Homo sapiens: one gene and its partners. The protein of the gene in region 2 interacts with the protein of the main gene of each other region in a pairwise test. Each region holds a gene or a part of one and is shown on either strand. Other genes may lie near its edges.

Region 1 (8,120 bases), on a different chromosome or scaffold from region 2:
AGACCCAGGGAAAGAGGAGTGCTGACCCCAAGCTGGGCAGGAGGTCCCTGTGCTCCTCTCCAGGGCAGGACCCTGCCCCCAGCCCCCAGCGCTGACCCGCCATCCTCCACCCAATGGCAAGAGCCCTGTCGGGAGTCCCACTGGCTGCCCATGGCAGGGCACCCCACCAGCCCCCGCCCTCCCTTCCCCCACCTCCATCTGGGAGGGCCCCTGACTCACAGCCAGGAGGTGTCCAAGGGCTACAGAGAGGCCGATGGCAAGGGGGGCTGAGCCACCAAGGTCACGGCGCCTCCGGTCGGTAGTAGCCAGCACGCATAGCACCAGCTGGAGGGTCCCGATGATCTCGATGCCCAGGCCCTGGCCCGAGTTCACACCATCAGCCAGCTGCAGGGGAGAGAGGTGGTGAGGACTGGTGAGGAGGGTAGGCAGGGACTGTGTCCCAGGACCCCAAGGATACCCAGGCCTCCCAGGCCCAGGCATGAAGGGCGGACCCTCAGATGGGCCTTCAGAGCCCATCACAGGGTCCCAGGCAAGCCTACACGGCAGGTAGTGGAAATCAGGCCTTGAACCCACCCCCTGTGTTAATGAAACTCCAGCCCAGCCCCTAATACCTGCCTAGACCCAGGCCCCACTCTGCCTAGAAGCTGGAGAGGCCTGGGGTGAGCTGGGGCCTTTGCATCCAGCTGCATCCAGGCCAGGGTATTCTGGGGTACCAAGACCAGAGGCAAGGGGCGAGCCCCAGGCATGAAGGTGATGGTCAGGAGCACTCCTAGGAGAAGAGATGCAAAAAGGTGGGAAGGCCCAGCAGGGGACACGGCTTCATACCCAAAAGTCCAGAACATTCCACCCCATGCCCGACTGCATCTAAATTCCAGGGCTGAGGAGGCCTTCGGTGAGGTCCTGGCTCCCTCCACCCCTCTTTCTCCTCTGTGCCTGCCTCCCTATTGTCTCCACCCTCTCTCTCTCCTTCTCCACCCCGTCTCTTTCCTTGGTCCAAGGCCTGTCTCCCATTGCTTCTGGCCCTGCCCTCCCTGTCTCTCCTTCTCTCTTCTTCCTCCCCACTGCTGGCCTCAGCCTCACCCTCCCTCTGCCTGGCCAGATAGGCCCCGCCACCACCGTCTGGCTGCCACTTACTCCTGGGCCACTTTTAGAAACATGACTCATGGAAAGAGAAGGGAATGGAAGCTGCTGTGAGGTCATGAAGGCCCTCCCCATGCAGCTGCCCCCGGAGGACCCCTCCCCAGGAAGCCCCAGCACCTTCCACTATGCTTTGTGGCCGTCCCAGGGGCTAAGTGCACTCACACAGGGGAGATGGACCACATCAGCAAAGGCTCACTTGCAAAGATGCCCACTTGAGGCCACTTAGGCTGCCTTCTCCCAGGCAGGGCTGGTGCACCCAAACACTTCCCAGCTGGGAGACAAACTACCCAGCTCCCATCCTCAGGATATGGGAGTGTCTCCAAGGCCATAGAGAATTTTGCAAAATCCAAGGTAGGGGGGCACACCTTGGAGGTTTTCCCAGCCCCACCCTGAGGCCATCCTACAAGAACAATTCTCTTCCCGCCTTTGTCTGCAGCCCTGGGTTACAGGGAATGACTCACATCCCCTCCCCTGCCTTGCAGCCCCAGCTTTGGGCCTTTCCTGGCGGACCCCAGGGCTACATCCCTTAGGTCCGCCAGCCCTCTGGCCAATGCCCAGTTCCCTTTCTGTCCCAAGGTTGGGCCAAAGAGGCAGAAGCCCTGTGTTCAGGTTCTGACTCTTCTACTTTCTGGCACCATGAGCATGGCCTATTCCCTCTGGTCTTCAGTCTTCCCATCTGCAAAATGGATCTCATTGTCCGTGCCTGCTCTCCAGAGCAGCTGGGAGGTTCAAAGGCCAAAGGGGCCGTCTCAGGGCTTTTGGAAAGAGTTGTCGACGCAGGAGGGATGGGGCAGTGGTAGTGACTCTTGTTTTGGTTCTTCTCATTGTGTGTGCAGGATCTGGGGACAGGCAGAAGGAGTGACGGCGGGTGGAGCTGCTGGCAGAAGCCTGCCCAGAGTTAGGACAGGCTGAATGGGGTTGAGGCTGGTGAGGCCAGCCCGGCTAGTCCTGATGCCCACCCACACTTGCACCTGTGAGGCCCCTGTCCCTCTGTATCTGAGCCCTCAGGAAGCTCGTGGCTCCTTCTATTCCTCTCTCTTCTGCTCTCCAGGGTTGGCCTAATTGCTAGCTGGCAGAAGTCCTGAAACCAGCCCTTCCCCGATGATTAATGGAGTCATCGCTGTAAGTGGCTCCCGCCTTGGAGAACCCTCCCAGCCCCATCCCTCACAGATGTGACCAGAAAGAGCTCATCTCCTCTGGTTCTTAACCAGGTGCGAGAGCCCCAGCCCCTACCCAAAGACAACATGCTTTTCATGCAAAGTGGGCAGAGCAGAGGGTGATAGTTCCAGGCCCTGTACTCTGAGTCCTTGGGAAGGGGAGGGGTCAGCCACCTGCCCTGGGAATTCTGGAATGTGCCTTCGTGACTGCTGAGAACCACATGGGCTGACAGCCTTCCTCTCCAATACCCACTACCACTACCACCAGGAAGCCTCCCCTGATAGCTTCAACATCTACTGACAACCTTCCTTCAACTATCTAATACACTTGCATTATTTACATCTGGAAACACTTGATAATTCAGAATTGGAAGGGGCACTCAAAGGCCTGTTGAAACTCAATGTCCAGGAAAGAGCAGGTAAAATACTTCAAATGTACGTTACTGTTTACAACCCATTAAATTTGAAAACTTGCTTAAACAAGGACAGTTCCCATTGTAGTCACTTGTTTTATATATATGTACATATATATTTGCACATCCCCAGGTAGTTTTGCCTGGCCCAGGTCTTATTAAGGCAAAAAAAAAAAAAAAAAAGTAAGAATCAGAACAATTCTCAATTCTCAATTCTCAATTGTCTTCCCGCTTTTGTCTGCAGCCCTGGGTTTTGTGAATGCAAGTATTACCGAAAGAATAATCCACACATTTCTTCTGAAGTGTCAGAAAGATACAAGCTCTCCATTTTGTGCTAAGCCCTTGTAAGCCCACTACTCAAGGCCCAGTTCAGACCCCACCAGCTCCTAGAAGCCTTCCCAGATCCCTGGCTGGAATTAACTTCTGCTCCCACCCACCATGCCCTCACTGAATTCTCTGTGCATCTTGTAGGAAATCAATCTTCCTGCGGCCTATGTGGGTGCATCTCCTCCTGGCCTGGGAGCTCGGTGAAGACAGAGTGGGGGACCTCTGCCATTTCTCTGCCCACGCCTCTGAGGGGAGGCTTACTGTGTGCTGATAGAAGTGGCAGAGAATGCTAATTTTCTAGAACTCCCACCCTTGCTAGGGGCAGCCTGGCTCCAGAGATGCTCTCCGGACCCAGGGCGGTCTTCTTCACTTTCTAGCTGGGAAACAATGGGCCAATCATTAGCCTCTGGGAGCCCTAGAGGGCAGCCTGTGCGATGGCTCAGTGAGATGATGACGCAGAGGCTGAGGCCCAGGGAGGATGCAGCAAAGCCAGGATCCTTGCCCCATAGTCTGTGCCACCCTACACTCACAGGTCAATGGGCTGGCCACTCCTAGGCCCAGTCAAGGGACCTGGCTATTCCCAGCTTGGACTTGGGAGCTGGCAGAAGGTGGTTCTGTGGCTGCCAGTGTGTCCTGGCTCTAGGGCAGCCCAGGGATGATCTCTCCAGGCAATGTGCTCTAAGCACTCCCTGCTACCCATAGACAGGCCAACCAGGGTGGCTTCCAAGGCATGGGGCCCCTGACTTGGCCTGGGCACCCTGGTGCCCTGGCCTTGGGGAAGAGCAGGCTCCAGAGCCAGGCCTGACTGAGGCTCTGAGCTTTCGTTCTCAAGGGATAGGAGACATCGAGGCCTGCCCTGCCCACCCCAGTGCCTCCAAGACTCAGCACTGGGCAGTGAGGGGACCTATGTGGGCTCCAGAGTGTCACTCCTCCATGGGTGTTCACACGTGGACATGGGGGGATTCCTGGTTTTGTGTGCCTCTGTGTGTCTTTGTAGATAAGTGTCTGCTGTGTCTGTGATGACCACATGTGTCCAGGGCTGACTCCCTCTTTCTCTTTTTTGTTAGATTGTAAGTGGTTTATTACACAATAATTACATTTTAAAAATCTATAAAAGAACTGGCCAGGCGCGGTGGCTCACGCCTGTAATCCCAGCACTCTGAGAAGCCAAGGCGGGTGGATCACAAGGTCAGGAGATCGAGACCATCCTGGCTAACACGGTTAAACCCCGTCTCTACTAAAAATACAAAAACAAAATTAGCCGGGTGTGGTGGCCTGTGGTCCCAGCTACTCGGGAGGCTGAGGTGGGAGAATGGCATAAACCCGGGAGGCAGAACTTGCAGTGAGCCGAGATGGTGCCACTGCACTCCAGCCTGGGCGACAGAGTGAGACTCCGTCTCAAAAAAAAAAATAAAAATCTATAAAGGAACTGCAAAAATCCCCCACTTGTATGCACCAAACAACATAGCCTAAAAATAAATGAGGGGAAAATTGACAAAATTACAAGGAGGACTGGATCACCCTACCACCAGAGTGAAAAATGTTAACAATCTTCTATTAGAAATGTACAGAATAAATGAAGCAGCCGAAAACTACCAATAACATGATCAGGGAGGGTTTGAACCCCATAATTAACAAGCTTGACTTCAGAAAAATATGAAAACCCTGTACCCCTGAATTAGAGAATGCACACTCTTTTTCATCAACTGATGAGGTACTGACCAAGTGCCTCGGCCTCCCTGGGAACAGCTATATCATACAGGCATCCCTGCAGGACATGAGGTCCTGGAGGCTGTGCTGTGTGTTTGCACTGGTATGTCTGATGGCACTTCTGGGTGCCTCACTGTCTCCCTGTGTCACACACCCACATAGCTGCCACTACCAGCTAGAGAGGGAAGAGAAGAGAAAAAAATGAGCCCCCCATGTGAGAAAGCAGCAGGTCTCAACAAGGCCTTTATTTGCTCCCAGAAGCCATTTCATCTTCCTGACAAGAAACAATACACAAAGCAATGGCTTCCTCCCTCCCTCCCTCCTTCTTTTCCTAACTCCAGGGCAGGGAGAGGAAAAGGCTCCATTGAGGAATCCCCGCCCAACCCTCCTTGGGTCCCAGAGTCTGAGTGGGACCACCCAGTCTTGAGAATGTGCTTTGTGTACCATGTGTGTGTGTCCTCCACGTAAGAGCACATGTGTGTGCATGTTTGTGTTTGTGCCATGTGTGTACACTTTGGAGCAGCAGGAATAATCAAGGGCTAGGAGGCAGTGCCACCTTGACAAGTCTCCACGCCTCTGTGGGCTTCAGTTTCCCCATCAGTAAAATGGAGGCCTTGGCCCAGATTCGAGCCCCCGCAGTCTCCAAAAGTGCCTCCTGCCTCACATCGGGGTGGTCACTCTCCAGCCCCAGATCCAGAAACCTAAGCACAGGATCCCCCGCAGGCCATCAGAATTGCTGATCTCAGCATGACACAAAGCCTATGCTGCAGAACCTGTCACCCACCCCACTGGACCCCCGCATAGACTAGCACCCCCAAAGCAGCCTCCTCACCAGAAAGCATCTACTTGCACACCCCTAATGGCAGGGAGCTTATTGACTTAGAGACAGCCCCTTCTTCGTGTCAACAACAATATCAACAACAACCTTCTTTACACTGAGTAGAAATCTGCCTTTCAAGGGGCCCTGACAGCGAGATTGCAGGCACTGAAAGGAGCTGCTGGAAGGGCCGGGGGCATTTTCCGGCCTTTCCGGATATCTTTTAAGTTGGAGATTTCAGCCTCAGAGTCTGCCCACCCCACAGAACTGTAGCTCCTGGCTGAGTGAAGACAGCCCCTCATGATCCCCCTGGGCACCACTCCATGTGGGCAAGGAGCCCCTCTCATCCCCATGGGGAAGCCCTGACTGAGGGGATCCTGGCCACTTGCAGGGCCTCGCGGACAGCATTTTCCTGCCTTCACCTCCCGGTGTGAGGGCTCAGATCCCAGCCACTCAGGAGACTCCAGACTCATTGGTGCTTCCAGAAGGTAAGGGCCATGGCCCCTGCTGGGTGGGGGCCCTAGACTAAGTGGGGGTACCATCTGGAATTGGCTTGCAGTGAGCTAATGGCCACTTCATGCTGCTAGAAGGTTGCCTGGGGTGGAGAAGGGAAGGCAAGGTGTGACAGGAGGCTGTGGCCTGGGAGTGGTGAGCAGGGGGTGAGCCCCTCAGACAGGTATCCCAGGAGGCCGTGTCCCCTCTCAAAGCATGGCCCCTTCAGAGTTCCCAGGGCAAATCCCAGTCAGGGCCAAGCATCAGGGTGGGCAACACTGGGACCGGCTGGGCTGTTCTGAGGTCCCTAAAGGGGAAGCAGCGTCAGGATTTTCCATGGTGAGGGAAGTCTCCACCACAAAGCTCCCCATCTCTGTGCCCTCCCCCTCATCTGGGGCTGGCGGAAACAGTAATTATATGTCCCAGATGTGGCATCACCACCCAGCCCCCAGCCCCTCCCTGGGCAGGACGGGCTGGGCAGGGACATGGAAACTCTGCCTTCCTTTCCCCATCCCTCCCCTGAGCTCTGGAGGAGGCAGCAGCACCCCCGGGAGAACTGGTGGCATGAAGAGGCCTCTCACTCTATGACTGGGGAAACTGAAGCCCAGAAAAACGGGATAAAGGGGAGAACTTAGGGCTTCAGTCAGGCCCCTGATGCTGCAGGTAGAAACACTTCTTGAGCAGTCAGGCCTGGAATTAGCAGGGCTGGGAGAAGACCCCGAAGAGGGTAGCTTTGCCCTCTGCCTGAGCCCAGCGGGCTGAAATCACAGGCTCTGGGAATCCAGACCCCTTCCCCCGGATGCAGCCCCTGGCCCGAATCCTGAGCCCTCACCACCCTCCTCCCATGCACCCCCAGCCTGACCATACCCAACAACTCCCGTACCACGGCCCTCACCTCCTCCTAGCCTGTGCTTGCTCACACAGTCCCTCTGCCCCTTCCCTCTGCAGTGTCTCCACATTCAGGCTCCTACGAAACCTCCTCCCTGATGCCTTCCTGGCCCTCCCACCCCTTAAGTTCAAAAGTTCCCGGGCCCGCCCTGACACCTCTTATCGCATCTGCCTCCTGCTTCATATCACAGGCAGCTGGGCACTGGCTTATCTTGACCTAGGGCTGTGGGCTTCTCTCGGGAGGGAGCCGGGCTAACCCAGCCCTGCATTGAGCACCCAGCAGTCCCTGGTCATGCTTGCAGGGAGCCGGCTGAGCAGACCAGACAGCAGAAGAATGAAAAAAGCCAGCAAATGCCAGGAATCCTGAGTCCACCAGCATCTCCTACTTCTCAGAGCCCAGCCACACCCTGCTATGTCCCTATCTCATAGACAGGAACTAGGGCCACACAGGCCAGTCTGTTGTGTGATGCCACATGGTGTTAGTGGCTGAGCTAGGACAGGGACAGGTGAGAGTGTCCACCCCAGCCTCAGAGCCTCTCACCCTTAGCCAAAATTGGTATTTGGCTCTTAGAACTAGCCGGGACCTTGCAGGCTGGACGGAGGCCCACGGTCTCTCTAGGGCATATCCTGAGCCCTGAGTCAGTCAGGAGAAAGTTGTCCCCAGCATGTCCCGAAGGGACACCCCCTGACTCACCCCAACCACTTCCTGCCACATCTTTCTCTGTTTTCCTTGGAAATCTCCATGCCAACCACTTGCCCCACCCAGGTTTTGACTGGGCTGGGGCTCAGGGCCAGAGAGGCTGCAGGAGCCTACCCCAGGTCATGAAAGAGAGTGTGTCACCTGCTGCCCAGACTGTTCCCTGCTCCTCTTGAGGCATCCAGGCCACCCCTGAGGCCCCTCCAGTTCCAGGGCCAGTGTCTGACGGGAGCCCTTAGAGGGGTACCTTCTCTATTTCTAGGCCCAGAGTTGAGGTCCTGAACCCCACCCTTCCACTGTTGGGACAGGACAGCGCCTGAGCCCCCACCATCATGCTAAGCGCCCTTATGTTCAGCACTGCCCCTGCTGGGCTGCTCTTAGCCAGCTTTCGTGGGATGGGTGATAAGCTCAAAGCAATGAAGTGAGCTGGCTGTCTGGGTGTGGCTGTGAGGTCACAAGACCTGAGTTCCCTCTCGAGG
Region 2 (6,408 bases):
CTTGTTGCAAAAGAATCTGTTCTTCTAATCTTGTTCATTTTCTTCAATTTCCACTACTTCTTTTCTACCAGGCTGATAACCATAGCAGGCCTGGGCATAGCCTGAGAAGTATAATCTCTGCTCAAAGAATAAACACACCCTTACCAAGGGAATTATCTGAAAATTTATTTTGTTTGTGTAATTCAGATGCCATTTTATGTTTAAAATGTTGTCCAGGATCAAAATGCCTGATAGGGCAAAACGGTGGAAATCCAAACTGCAATATCAAAATATTCTCTTATTTAAAGTCTCTGTCAATAATGATATCTGATTGAATCTAGGCGAGTGAGCATAATATTACGAAAAGAAGTTTTGAAAAGCTGGAATTGTGTAGAAATGCTCAATTTCCTGAAAATGGCTGAAGAATGAAAATACAAAAAGGATGGATATAAGATCGTAGAATGCTGTAGTTAGAAATATTTACTTGAGACTACTGACAAGTCCATTTCCATTTTCTCTTTCCCTAAGAACACCAATCAGGGTCTTCAGGCCTGGAAGATTGAAGACATTCCAGCCAACAAAATGTCCATTGCGTGGCAGCTACCACAATATGCCCTGGTTACAGCTGGGGAGGTCATGTTCTCTGTCACAGGTCTTGAGTTTTCTTATTCTCAGGTAAGTTTTTGCAAATAGAAGGTAGAAATTGAGGCATTGCTTGAAGGACAATGAATTTTAATTCTAGCACTGACTTAAATAGGTATGTTATCTCTTTTGGCCTTGGGTACCTTATTTATGACCCTGAACATATATGACCTGAACATCTTAACTCCCCAGGTCATGACAGTACAGCATGGGAGTCTATGATTTTGGGGTTCTAGGAAAGAGATTAAAGATTAAAATGAAGAGCTGCAGAGTCAGACTTCCCGTGTTCAAATTTTGGCTGCATGACCTATTGTGTAACCTTGAGCAAGTAAATTACTATCTCTGTAATGCTGTCGCCCAGGCTGGAGTGCAGTGGCGCGATCTCAGCTCACTGCATTCCAGCCTGAGCGACAGAGCGAGACTCCATCTGCCTCCCCGGCTCAAGCGATTCTCCTGCCTCAGCCTCTTGAGTAGCTGGGATTATAGGCGCACACCACCATTCCTGGCTAATTTTTGTATTTTTAGTAGAGACAGGGTTTCACCATGTTGGCCAGGCTGATCTCTAACTCCTGACCTTGGATGATCTGCCCACCTTGGCCTCCCAAAGTGCTAGGATTACAGGCTTGAGCTACTGCGCCCAGTCTGTAATACTATTTTTTAAATGTATAAGAATACGAATAGAACTTATCTCTTAGGATTGTAATGAAGATTATATGACATAATGAGTTTAAATATATTCAGTTAGGAGCTTCATCTTATTCTTACTGTTTACATTATTAACACCCTCTGAATCAATGTGATAGCTGAACTTAATAAGAGAAGTTCTAACTTGGAAGCTTTTGTGGGAGAAGTTTCCTGGATGCATGGGGCATGAGGGCAGTGAAGGGGGTTTGTTTACTTTCAAACTTGTGTCATCCCCAGGCTCCCTCTAGCATGAAATCTGTGCTCCAGGCAGCTTGGCTATTGACAATTGCAGTTGGGAATATCATCGTGCTTGTTGTGGCACAGTTCAGTGGCCTGGTACAGGTATGGATCTGAGGGAAGCAGGATTCATTTCTACTCAAGTTTTTCCTCCAGCTTTCTCTTCTCCCTTTCCCCCATCTCTCTGCTTCCCACATTCCCCATTCAGTGCTGTGACATGAAATGGGTTAGATATACAGACTTTACCAGGAAAATAGACATATGTAAGTGGCAATAATGACTACAATATACCTATGTGAGGAGAGGCCAGTGAACCCAGTCTTTGTCCAGCAAAAGTCTGGTTAAACTGGTGATCCCAGGTCAGTCTGCTCCCCACTCCTCATCCTGTAAAGATCTCTTTAGTTTCAGGTTTCTCCATATTCTTCTCATATTTATTTCCCCCTGCAGTGGGCCGAATTCATTTTGTTTTCCTGCCTCCTGCTGGTGATCTGCCTGATCTTCTCCATCATGGGCTACTACTATGTTCCTGTAAAGACAGAGGATATGCGGGGTCCAGCAGATAAGCACATTCCTCACATCCAGGGGAACATGATCAAACTAGAGACCAAGAAGACAAAACTCTGATGACTCCCTAGATTCTGTCCTGACCCCAATTCCTGGCCCTGTCTTGAAGCATTTTTTTTCTTCTACTGGATTAGACAAGAGAGATAGCAGCATATCAGAGCTGATCTCCTCCACCTTTCTCCAATGACAGAAGTTCCAGGACTGGTTTTCCAGTACATCTTTAAACAAGGCCCCAGAGACTCTATGTCTGCCCGTCCATCAGTGAACTCATTAAAACTTGTGCAGTGTTGCTGGAGCTGGCCTGGTGTCTCCAAATGACCATGAAAATACACACGTATAATGGAGATCATTCTCTGTGGGTATGCAAAGTTATGGGAATTCCTTTATAGGTAACTGCCATTTAGGACTGATGGCCCTAATTTTTGAGGTGCTGATTTAGAGGCAAAATTGCAGAATAACAAAGAAATGGTATTTCAAGTTTTTTTTTTTATAAGCAATGTAATTATGCTATTCACAGGGGCCTCAAGAATTGGTATGTATGATGTGATCTGGTCCAGCCAGGGCCTGGCTTGTCAGCTCTCTAGGTTTGATATGACTTTAGTAAATTTGTCAATATAGATGGTAGGAAGCAGAATGCCATTTTATTAAAACACAGGAGAAGTTATATCTCTCTGATTATGATAGTATTTTATTTACTTATCCAAACCCTCCTTTCTCAGTATGGATAGATCATGGAAACCAGATTAGAGATAGTAAGCATTAGTAAACATTGTTCTGGAGAACAGGAACAGGTGTAAGTTGTAGAAATCCTGAAGAGCCAGTCATTCTTTTACAGAGTACATTCTTCTTAGCCTCTATGGCGCTGGTCTATGCCCTTCAGTGAACAGTTGTATAAACAATAATTATAATTTGCAACCTTGTCTTGTCAACCTTGCTGATCCAGCTTTTTCTTATTATTACACCTTGTCTTGCTTATTGCAGCAAATATTCAATAACAACAATGTTTCTATAAGTCCAACTTCCTTTATTAATGTTTCCATTTAGCCTCAAAAATATCAAAGTAGTTCCTTTTTGATGTTGTTTTCCTGATTTACTTTTCCCATAAGTTTTAAATACCATTTCTGCCTTGAAGCCTAGAAATTTTCTTTTTATTCAAAAAAAGTTACATTAATGCTCTAGGTTTGAGGTTCTAAAATGGAAATGTCAATAGAGGAGCATGGTCCTATGTGAGGTTCCTATCAAAATTTGTGGGAGTAGGGATGGTAGAGCATGAGGGTTTTGTTTGTGTATGTGTATGGTCATGAAAAAAAATTGAGAAACATTACCTCATACACAATGAATGAATCAGAGGACAGACACGGGAATGGCACGACTGTGCAGTGTGTTACTAGGAAAAAAGTTCAGAATCACTGTTCTAGAGAGCTTCATTTCCATTGGTTTTAAAACATTATTCTCATGTAGAACAGTGTTGGGTCTCATACTGTTAATGTTAATACGTAACAATGTTCATGTTAACAGGCACCTGTTAATATTAACAGATAATGTTACTGTTAACAGGTAAGAGAAATTGCTCTAAGTGCCCAAACTTTATATACTTCAGTTTTAATGACAAGCATTTCAGAAATATAAGAGCGGCAGCCAGACCAACCAGTTTTTCCAGATATCTTGATGTGAACCTGACCCTACTCCTTTAGAAGACAGCCTGTTCATTTTTAAATAGCTTTAACCCAAACTGTTCTATGACCATTGTTTCAAGAGACATTAACACAGTTCTGTAAATAGAAGTGTCTATGGACAAATAAGTTTGGGAAATGTGGCATACTGTATCCTTTTCTTAACATTTGCATATTAAAGACTCTGAGATATCCTGCAGTAAAGACACAAGATACCTTGTTTAAATTAACATGTACGCTGCAGAACATTGGTTTGGAAAAAACTGTTGAGCAGTTCTTCCTTGTAAGTGCTGAGCTTCCTCTCTGAAACCTCCTACCATTGTTTTTTTTCCCCTGTAGCTAACAAGAATAAGTATAACAGCCGGCCAGGCACAGTGGCTCATGCCTGTAATCCCAGCACTTTGGGAGGCTGAGACAGGTGGATCACCTGAGGTCAGGAGTTCGAGACCAGCCTGGCCAACATGGTGAAACCGTGTCTCTACTAAAAGTACAAAAATTAGCCAGGTGTGATGGCAGGTGCCTGTAATCCCAGCTACTCGGGAGGCTGAAGCAGAAGAATTGCTTGAACCCGGGAGGCAGAGGTTGCAATGAGCCGAGATCACGCCATCACACTCTAGCCTGGGGGACAAGAGTGAGACTTCATCTAAAAAAAAAAAGAAAAGAATATGTATACCCCCTTTTTCATGTGGCAGATGTTTAGCTATTTGGGGAGAACTTTCATGGCTCTTCCCTAATCATCAAGTATTCAAGGTAAAGATTCTCGGTTCCTGTAATGGTTCCTCACCAGGCATAATTTGTCCTTTTACCATCCTACTTTCTGTCTTCTGAAAAACATTCTTTATCTGAAATACAGCAATTAATATTAAGATATCTTAATATGAAGTGCCTGGAGTCAAATATAACATTCCAAAGTAGTCTGACTGGAAGAACTAGCACCTGCCTTTCTTCAAACAATGCACTTCTGTTAATGCAGTGTAAGGTAACATGAGTTGTTTTTGGAAACTACATCATAATGTGGGCTTACATTCTAGCACTTATCACTTAATGACAGGGATACATTTGAGGAATGCATTGTTAGGCAATTTTGTCATTATGCAAACATCATAGAGTGTACTTACACAAACCTATGGTATAGCCTACTACACATCTAAGTTATATGGTATAGACTGTTTCTCCAGCTATATGGTGTAGACTGTTTCTCCTAGGCTACAAACCTGCACAGCATGTTACTGTATTAAATGCTGTAGGCAATTGTAACACAATGGTATTTTTATACTTAAACATATCTAAACATAGAAACGGTACAAAAAACTTTACACATTATATAGATGTATCAAATTATTCATATGTGCTCTGAAAATGTCTATATCTGTTATGTATCAATTTTTTAAAAAGTGAATGACATAATTCATTTGAAAAAATGTGGACACACAAATTGGAAAAGAGGTATAAATGCAGTATTATAATCTAATGGGACCACCATCACATATTTGGTCTGTCATTGACTGAAACTGCAATATAGAGTTTTTCTTAACATTTGCATATTAAAGACTCTGACTATATATGGACATATATGACTGTCACCATTGTAAGACATTTTGATGTTATTCTAAGTGACATGTTAAACCATTGGAAGTTTAGAACATGAGAGTGACATAATGTGATCATTTAAGATCACTTTGGCTGCTAAGGGGAGAATTATCTATAGTCAGGAAGGAAAAGAAGTAAGGAGTTAAGTTAGGAGGCTTTTGCAATAGTTCAGGCAATAGATGGTAGTGACTTGGACAAGGTGATAGTAGTGGAGGTGGAGAGAAATGGTTTGACTTGGAATTAAACTTTAAGCTAGAACTGACAAGATTTGAGTGTAGTTTGGATACACAATTTAAAAGAAAGAAATGCGCCAGATGTGGTGCCTTACACCTGTAATCTCAATTCTTTGCAAGGATAAGGCAGGAAGATTCTTTGAAGCCGGGAGTTCAAGACCACTCTAGGCAACATAATGAGACCCCCTCTCTACAAGAAATAAAAATAAAAAAATTAGCCGGGTGTGGTGGTGTGCACCTGCAACCCCAGCTTCTCAGGAGGCTGAGGCAGAACAATCCCTTGAGCCCAGGTGCTTAAAGCTGCAATGAGCTATGATCACACCACTGTACTCCAGCCTGGACAATAGGACCCTGTCTCAAAATGAAAGAAGCGGTGGGGGGTGGAGAGAGAGAGAGAAAGGAAGGAAGGAAGGAAGGAAGCAAGGAAGGAAGGAAGGAAGGAAGGAAAAAGAAAAGAAAAAGAAAGAAAGAAAAAAGCTCACTCCTAGATTTGGTCCTAAGTAGTAAGGATGAATCAGGATGCAATTTTCTAGAAATAGCAAAGACTAGGATAAGAAAAGTTTTCTGGTATGAGTTTTGTTTTGGACATGTTGAGCTTCTACCCATGCTAATGGATATCCAATTAGAGACATTAAGTTAGCAGTTTCATATATGAGTCTGAAGATCAGGTAAGAGGTTGGAGCTAGAAACATAAACTTGAGAATCATCAGCATATATATGGTATTTAAAGCCATCAAACTGGAAGAGATTTCCCAAGAAGTGAATGTGTATAGAGAAATGATGAGCAAGAAGGACAGTTTGACAAG
Region 3 (8,120 bases), about 24 Mb from region 2:
TCCTACCTTAGTCACCCAAGTAGCTGGGACCACAGACACACATCACCAGGCCTGGCTAATTTTTTTATTTTTTATTTTTGTAGAGATGGGGTTTTACCATGTTGCCCAGGCTGATCTCAAACTCCTGGCCTCAAGTGATCCTCCCACCTCAGCCTCTCAAAGTGTTGGAATTACAGGTGTAAACCATCCTGCCCAGCTGTAATTTTGATTTGCTTTCCTTTATTCTGGCTTCCTATAATTTCAGAAGGCTGTATCTATAGGCTTTGATTAAAAAAAAATCTAACTCATAAATATGAAGATAAATGCCTACTATATCCAAAAGGATCAAGGATAATAGGTATTCACTTCACATATAAGGCTGTTATCACAAAGACAATAATAACAAAGGAGTAAGATTTCTGAAAAGAGAAAATATTCATTGAGTACTATACTATTTGCTAGGAACTGTGCAGAAGAATTGACTTAATCCCTAAAATGATCATCCTATCCGATAGGTACTATTAATATTTCCATTTTACAGGTAAATAAGGCCTGGAGACGGTTGTAAAAAATTAATATTTAGTAAAGGATGTTATTTAACAGATCATTTAAGTATTTCAGTAATCCTATGATGTATTATACTACCCAGTTTATGTATAAGAACACTAAGGCTCAAACAGGTTAATTAAATTTTACAGATTTAAGTAGGTGACATATCTAGAATTCAGACTCTGTTTGGTTTCTCTCCAAAACCGCTTCTCTTTTCCCTACAGAAAATAACTTGCTTAGAAATGCAAGATAATGAGTAACCACACTGTAACTCAGCACATCTGTATTCTAGTTCCAGCCCTGTCCTTAGCCAAATGTAACACCTCAGCCATTTAGTAATTTTGAGCCACTCTTTATCTGTGGCAAGGTATGCGTTGTGATGGGTACTCTAAACATATTTAAGTCCCTTCCAATTCTAAAAGCATATGTTTATCTTTAGCATTGCTTTATCTAGTGATAGGTACGTACATTTAGATAAATGTGGTAGGTAAATTTCTAATTAAGTAGATGCAACTGATGGAATCATAATTATTGACTACACATATGTCAATTGTGCTTGACCCACTTATTTAAGCACTAAAAAGTAGTAACCAAAAAGAAAAAATCCTCTATGATTTTCCTTAGGCGAGACAATTTGGTTTCCTCCCTCCCCACTATCTTCTTCCATTCTGGCTGGCAGGGCCAGGGAATATCCTCCCTATGTAGTGGAAGGAGCACACTATGCCATGAAGAGTTAGATCAGAAGCAAGCTGTGGATCAGACTTCCATTCTCTGACCTCTTGTCTGGCAGAGGGGCAACAGAAGCAACAGCAGGTGCATCTGAAGGGTCTCTGCATTGTCATGATTTCTCGGCCCATACAATCAGTGACCCGGAGGACGAAGGGCCTTAGTGTCCGATAGGCATTCCTGGTAAAGTCATCTGTGTCTTCGGTTACAATGTAAACCATCTGGTCTGAGTTGTTTTTAATATCATATCTATTATTAGTTTCAAAACATGTCATCACTAAAAAATAAAATGAGTAAGTCTATATTAGAAACATTTAAAATGGGCCTCAGAAAGTCCTTGTTTAGTATTTCTTAAGGGCTTAAAGCAACATAGCTTTTTTAAAGTTTCAGGTGAAATATGTAGAATTGATTAGAGTACCCCAAAAATCATATTATCTAAAAGTATTTAAGCAATTGTGAAAATTTAAAACATTTCTTTTAAGAAGTTCAGTGTAAACATTAAAAAAATTTTACATAAAAGAAAAGATTGAAACAACCCTTTTGTTTCAATTCCTGGAGTATCTGAATTCAGAAAACTTTAATTATAAAACCATTTAAAAAAATTATACATTTGACCATTAATTAATCAGTTCACGAAACATGCTTGGAGGAGTAGGGTCATTACTAATTACAAACAAGAGAACAAACCAAGAAAAGTCAAAGGCCCTATGTGGTGGCCAAATGAATGTGCACAGCTGGTTTAGTGAGGGTCAGTACTCTTGTAGGATGAACTGAGAACAGGCATCATTTTGACTGAGATCTTTTCTTCTTACTTCCAAAGCGAGGGCACTGCACTACGATTTGGCAGATTTGGATTCTATTTCCAGCTCTGCCACTGATTAGCTGACTGTGGTTTAAATGCTATTTCCTGATCTGGAGGTGATTAGCTGACTGTGGTGTCCCTGGCTAACTCATTTAGTCTCTTGGCTCCTTTTTTTACTCATCTTTGAAAGGTAAATGTGGAGTAGGAACAATGGGTAAAGTGTAGGGCTATTGACCAGATAAAATGTAAGCCCTTTTCAAATCTAAGAGCTTATGATTATATGATGTATAGAAGGATAAAATTATACAAAATAATTCACTTTATTACTTTCTTGAAGATAGGGTAATAGAGCAGTTTTTTTTTCTTTGAGCCACTAAAACATGATCAATATAAAGAAGGAACTAGATATTGGATAATGCAAATTTCCATCTGATTAAAATACTGCTGAGCACTACAAAAATTATACATACTTTCCAGAGGCTCAAAATGCTGAAGAACATGTATGTTGTCCAACTGTTGGGATAAAACAAAGCAATCAGAAGACAGAAATAACAGAACTAAAATACCACTGTAAAATAAACTGATGAAATAGATATTAAAATGCATCAATTGATACCAAAATATATTTTTGAAAGTCAATAGAATCAAAAAAATTTTACCAACTGAAATTAGCTTATCTGCATCTGATCGGATGGATATTAGCAGAGTTGTCCATATTAGAAAAACACTTTCTTTCAGTACCACTTTAAAAAAGTTGTCTGCTATATCAGAAAAACAAAACATCTACTTGCTGTAGTAATCACATCAGAAGAAGCTGTGCTTATAGATTGTTCCTAGATAAGTCCCTACTCACTGGTCTCTCTACATGTCATCCATAGCCTGTAGTTGTTTAGTTAAGTTCAGAACGATTAACACGGACCAGCCATAGAAAAGGGAAGTCTCTCAGTGGCTTAAGGAGAACAAACAAGCCAGGGTGAACCTCACATGGAGTGTCCCCATTTTATATTATTTTACAGGTACCTCCAGCAGAGGTTTATAAACTGACTTGCATTCACTTGATCTACAAAGGCCAGGGTCTTCCCCAAGTGCACACTTTAATAAGGGAAGGGTCTATTACACTAGGAAGCATGTGAACAGGATTAGGGGAAGAGAAAGGAAACATTGTTAGATGGCAACCCATGAAAAGGACGGCTGGGTATATACCATTAGAGAAATTTCTATCTTAGGAATCATTCTAAAGATGAGCAGTTTGATGGGCACATTATCTGTTACATGTGAGAACATTCTAGCAGAAGAAAAGAAACCTTCTTGAGGACACACTGATTATATTTGTATAATTTTACATCATTTAGACCATTAGACCATTCCTAATCCCTGAGCCCAGAACACTGCCTGAAGTGCCATATTTCACCAAACATTGGTTAAGTACATTAATTAATGAAGAATATATGAATGCAGTAATACATGAAATTAAAATAATGTACCTAAACACGAATGTTTTATGGTGTGATTAATTACAGGAGGGTACAAAGGGCACAATCTATGCTTAATTAAAACCTTTTTCTTACATAAAAACACAATGACATAAGGAGACATAAATATGCCTCATAAAATACCAAAAGTGACTACTAAAATGGTTTATAGTCCATTTTAGAAAAGTAGGGTATTAAAATCTAGAAGTGAAAAGTAAAAATATAAACTACAGGCATACTCTGAAGATACTACAAGTTTGGTTCCAGACCAAGGCAATAAAGCAATTATTGTAAGAAAGTGAGTGACATGAATGTTTTATTTTCTTATTGAATCTAAAATTATGTTTACACTATAATGTAGTCTACAGTGTGTGTAAGAGTATTAATCTAAAAGAAGTATATATCTTAATTTTAAAAAACTTTATTGCTAAAAACTGCTAACAATCATCTGAGACTTCAGCTAGTCACAATCCTCTTGCTGGTAGAGGGTCTTGTCTCTATGTTAATGATTGCTAAATGGTCAGGGTGGTGATTGCTGAAGCCCAGGTTGGCGGCAGCAATTTCTTAACAAAAGATAATGAAGTTTGCCATATCAATTGACTGACTCTTCTCTGCATGAAAGATTTCCTTGTAGCACATGATGTTCTTTTTAGTACTTTACCACAGTAGAACTTCCTTCAAAATTGGAGTCAATCCACCTAAAAACTGCCACTGCTTTATCAATTATATTTGTGTAGTATTCTAAAACCTTTGTCATTTCAACAATGTTCACAGAATTCTCACCAGGAGTAAATTTCATCTCAAGGAAGCACTTTCTTTGCTTATACATAAGAAGCAAGTGCTCATCTGTTAAAGTTGTATCATGAGTTACAGTAATTCAGTCACATCTGCAGGTTCCACTTCAAATTCTAGTTCTCTTGCTGTTTCCATCATATCTGAAATTACTTCCTCCACTGAAATCTTGAACCCTTCAAAATCATCATAAAAGTGGCAATCAGCTTCTCCCAAACACCTGTTAATGCTGATATTTTGACCTCTTCCCATGAATCATGAATGTCCTTATTGGCATCTAGAATGGTGAATCCTTTCCACATGGTTTTCAATTTATTTTGCCCAGATCTGTCTGAGAAATGACACCATCTATGGCAACTATAGCCTAACGAAATTCATTTTTTTAACAATAAGACTTGTAAATTGAAATTATACTTTGACCCATGGGCTGCAGAATGGATGTTGTGTTAGCAGGCATTAAAACAACATTAATCTCCTTATACGTCTCCATCAGAGCTCTTGGGTGACCAGATGTGTTGTCAGTGAGTAGTAATGTTTTGCAAGAGACCCTAACAGGGAAGTCAGTCTGTCCTTTGAAGTTTTCACGTCAGGCGTTGACTTCTACTTTTTAGCTATGAAAGTCCTAGAAGGCATCTTCTTCCAACAGAAGGCTGTTGCATCTATATTCAAAATCTGTTGTTTAGCAGAGTCACCTTCATCAATGATCTTGTTATAGTTAGGATCTTCTGAAAAACTTACTGCAGCTTCTACATCAGGACTTGCTGCTTCACCTTGCACTTCTATGTTACAAAAGTGCCTTTTTTCCCCCCTTAAGCCTTGTGAGCCAACCTCTGCCAGCTTCAAACTTTTTTTTTCTGTAGCTTCCTCACCTTTCTCAGCCTACATAGAATTTAGGAGAGATAGGGCTTTGCTCTGAATTATGCTTTGGCTTAAGGAAATGTTGTGACTGGTTTGATCTTCTTTCTAGACCACTAAAACTTTCTCCATATCAGCAATTAGGCTCTTTTACTTTTCACCATTCATATGTTCATTGGAGTAATATCACTTTCAATTTCCTTCAAGAACTTTTCCTTTGCATTCACAGCTTGGCTAACTGGTGCTAGAAGACTAGCTTTTGGCCTATCTCAACTTTCAACATGCCTTCCTCATTAAGCTAAATCATTTCCAGCTTTCTTATTTACAGTGAGAGATGTGCAATTGTTTCTTTCACTTGAACACTCAGAGGCCATCACAGGATTATTAACTGGCCTAATTTCAATATTATTGTGTCCCTTCCTGGAACTCAATAATATGTGTCTGTTAAGGGGTAGTTCTTTGACAAATTGGTAAAGTCACTGGTAAAGCCAAGACTCTGAAAATAATATAATCGTGCTAATTTGGATGTTTTAGGATTCTTGGGAACCTTGATAAAGATTCATGTAATCTTCATGTGAGATCTCAAAAAGACTAGGGTAGATAGAGGAAAAAGATTGGCTCTATGTCTTGCATTCACACATAAGAAGGTATTTAAGCTAATAACAGCCACATAGCTTTCATCCATTGGGACGGCCCTTTATGTCAAAAATATTAGGCACATTGTGACCCTTATCTCATTAAAAATTCTCCTAACAATCTGGTAAGGTAGGTATTGATAATACTATTTTATAGATGATAAAATTCAAGCAGCAAGAGGTTAGAAATTTTATCAAAGTTTTTGAGTTACTAGAGAGTAGGACAGAATTAAAAAACCAGGTTTGCCTGGGTCCAAACCTGTGTTTTGTTTATTTTTTCACTTATTTCTTTAACTCTAAATATTCCTAAAAGGGAAAACTCATAAAATACGTTAAATTAACCTCTGTCAGAATCATAAAAGAAATTAAGAAACAAGTTTTTAATATTTAAATAAACAAAGCTATACAATTTGAAAAGAGAATTGACTGTAGAAGATGTTAGATTCCCAAGAACAACTTCTGTATTTATCACCAAGTATAGAAATGAGACTTTCTAAACTTGATAAGCTACAAACATTTTATTATCTTCTGAAATAATGTAGATGTTTACTCTAGCACTTCACCTGAATGAGTTTTGCATTTTGTCAAAATTTTGTCCAAATAATAATTTAGGATAAATTTTGGCTTTTGTAAAATCCAAATTTTCCTGATCCAACTGTATTGACTTCTATACACCAATGTTATAATATTATACAAATAGTTTTCAGCACACAAGATTATCAGGGTCCCTGTCAATATACAGAATTGAAAAGAGAAATGACAGAACTCGAGGAAATACTTGGCTGTTGACCTGGGGAGGTAAGTATTAAATTGGGAAGTTTCTTCTTTATAATGTATTTCAGCACTTCCTTTTTCTATAAACAACAACAAAAAAGATTCAGAAGGTTCTATGGAATCTCCAATAAAGTAGTCTCCCTCTTATCCTCAGGGGATACTTTCCAAGCCCTCAGTGGATACCTGAAACCACAGATTGTACCAAATCCTGTATATACTATGCACAAATTTTTCTTTTCTTCTTTACAATTTCATGGACATATTAATTTTACTATAGATCTTAGTAACCTTAGCATAGGAATTTTTTTATTATTAAGTAAAAAACCTTCACCTTTACATGGAAAGGAAGACCTTATGGCCTCTCTTTGGTCTTTCCTTGACATATCCAAATTCCCAGCATTACTACTCTTGTGCTTTGGAGACATAATTAAGTAAAATAAGTTACTTCAATGCAAGCACTGTGATACTGTAAGTCAATCTGATAACCAAGATGTGACTCTGGGTCTGTATACTATGGATAACATCTACAGCGTGGATACACTGGACAAAGGAATGATATATGTGCCAGGCAGAACACAGCAGGACTGTGCAAGATTTCATCATGCTACTCAGAATAAATTTAAAATTTATGAATGGTTTATTTCTAGAATTTTCCATTTAATATTTTTGGAACCTGGTTGACCATTGGTAACTGAAACCGCAGGAATCAACGCCACAAATAAAAGGCGTCTACTCTGCCAGCTTTATCTTATTTTCATTAAGCAGGTTTTTTAGTTTCAGACATGGGTTTTTAAACAAAACTATTTGTGCACAAACTTCCCATATTACCCCAGTTTTTGATCTGCATGTCCTGGTGGCAGCAGAATATCTACATAGATGTTAATTAGGGAGTTATTGTGTTGTATGAAGGGGGTCTCTGGAACTTGGCCTGAAGCAATATTCTTTGTAGGGTCCATTATTTTTATTTATATTGTTTGTTTTTGGGGGTGACAAGAGTAGCTAATGAAAATGATGGGTGGTGGTAAAAAGCAATGGGCTAAGGCACTCAGTAATTTACCCACTGTATTGTGTTTTGTTCTCTTTTGTGCTTTTTTTGATGTTAACTGTTTACTTCTAAGCAAATAACACAACTATCCTCTATGATAGTTTTTCTATTTCCATTTGTACAATTCTTTCAAGAAAACATCTTGAATGCCTTGAAGTTCAACATAAATCCTTATGAAAAACATACTCATCCCACTATAAACATCCTTGTACTTGCTGTTTCCCCTTCATATTTCTGAAACTGGTATCACTGTTCTTATAGTTTCACAAATGGCATCTGTCATCACTGACCCATCTCCTTTATTCACTCTGGTCTGCTTTTTTTCTCTCTTTGTTGGATCCCTATGGTCACATTTCATAAGAAAATAATTTGTATTTTCATGGAGTACCTGAACTAAGTATTCCAGACCAGGAGGGCAGTTTGCCATAGGAGTTGGCCCTGGCATCCATGTTATTGGAACAGACTGATTTGGCATAGGATATTTGCCAGGC

Evidence for each region.
Region 1: the proteins of SLC15A2 (region 2) and AQP1 interact in binary tests that used the Homo sapiens proteins (3 or more experiments, as listed by UniProt).
Region 3: the proteins of SLC15A2 (region 2) and PLSCR4 interact in binary tests that used the Homo sapiens proteins (3 or more experiments, as listed by UniProt).

What each region holds. Positions count from the first base shown.
Region 1 is NC_000007.14:30,914,330-30,922,449, reverse strand, and holds part of AQP1 (aquaporin-1), read right to left. Parts: intron 385-8,120; coding exon 220-384; intron 1-219. UniProt on the Homo sapiens protein: Forms a water channel that facilitates the transport of water across cell membranes, playing a crucial role in water homeostasis in various tissues.
Region 2 is NC_000003.12:121,938,842-121,945,249, forward strand, and holds the end of SLC15A2 (solute carrier family 15 member 2), read left to right. Parts: intron 1-507; coding exon 508-654; intron 655-1,542; coding exon 1,543-1,647; intron 1,648-1,989; coding exon 1,990-2,166; 3' UTR 2,167-5,347; downstream 5,348-6,408. UniProt on the Homo sapiens protein: Proton-coupled amino-acid transporter that transports oligopeptides of 2 to 4 amino acids with a preference for dipeptides. Transports neutral and anionic dipeptides with a proton to peptide stoichiometry of 2:1 or 3:1.
Region 3 is NC_000003.12:146,198,509-146,206,628, forward strand, and holds part of PLSCR4 (phospholipid scramblase 4), read right to left. Parts: coding exon 8,018-8,120; intron 2,570-8,017; coding exon 2,527-2,569; intron 1,532-2,526; coding exon 1,305-1,531; intron 1-1,304. UniProt on the Homo sapiens protein: Catalyzes metal ion-induced ATP-independent rapid bidirectional and non-specific movement of phospholipids (lipid scrambling or lipid flip-flop) between the inner and outer leaflet of the plasma membrane and participates in the redistribution of phospholipids between membrane leaflets.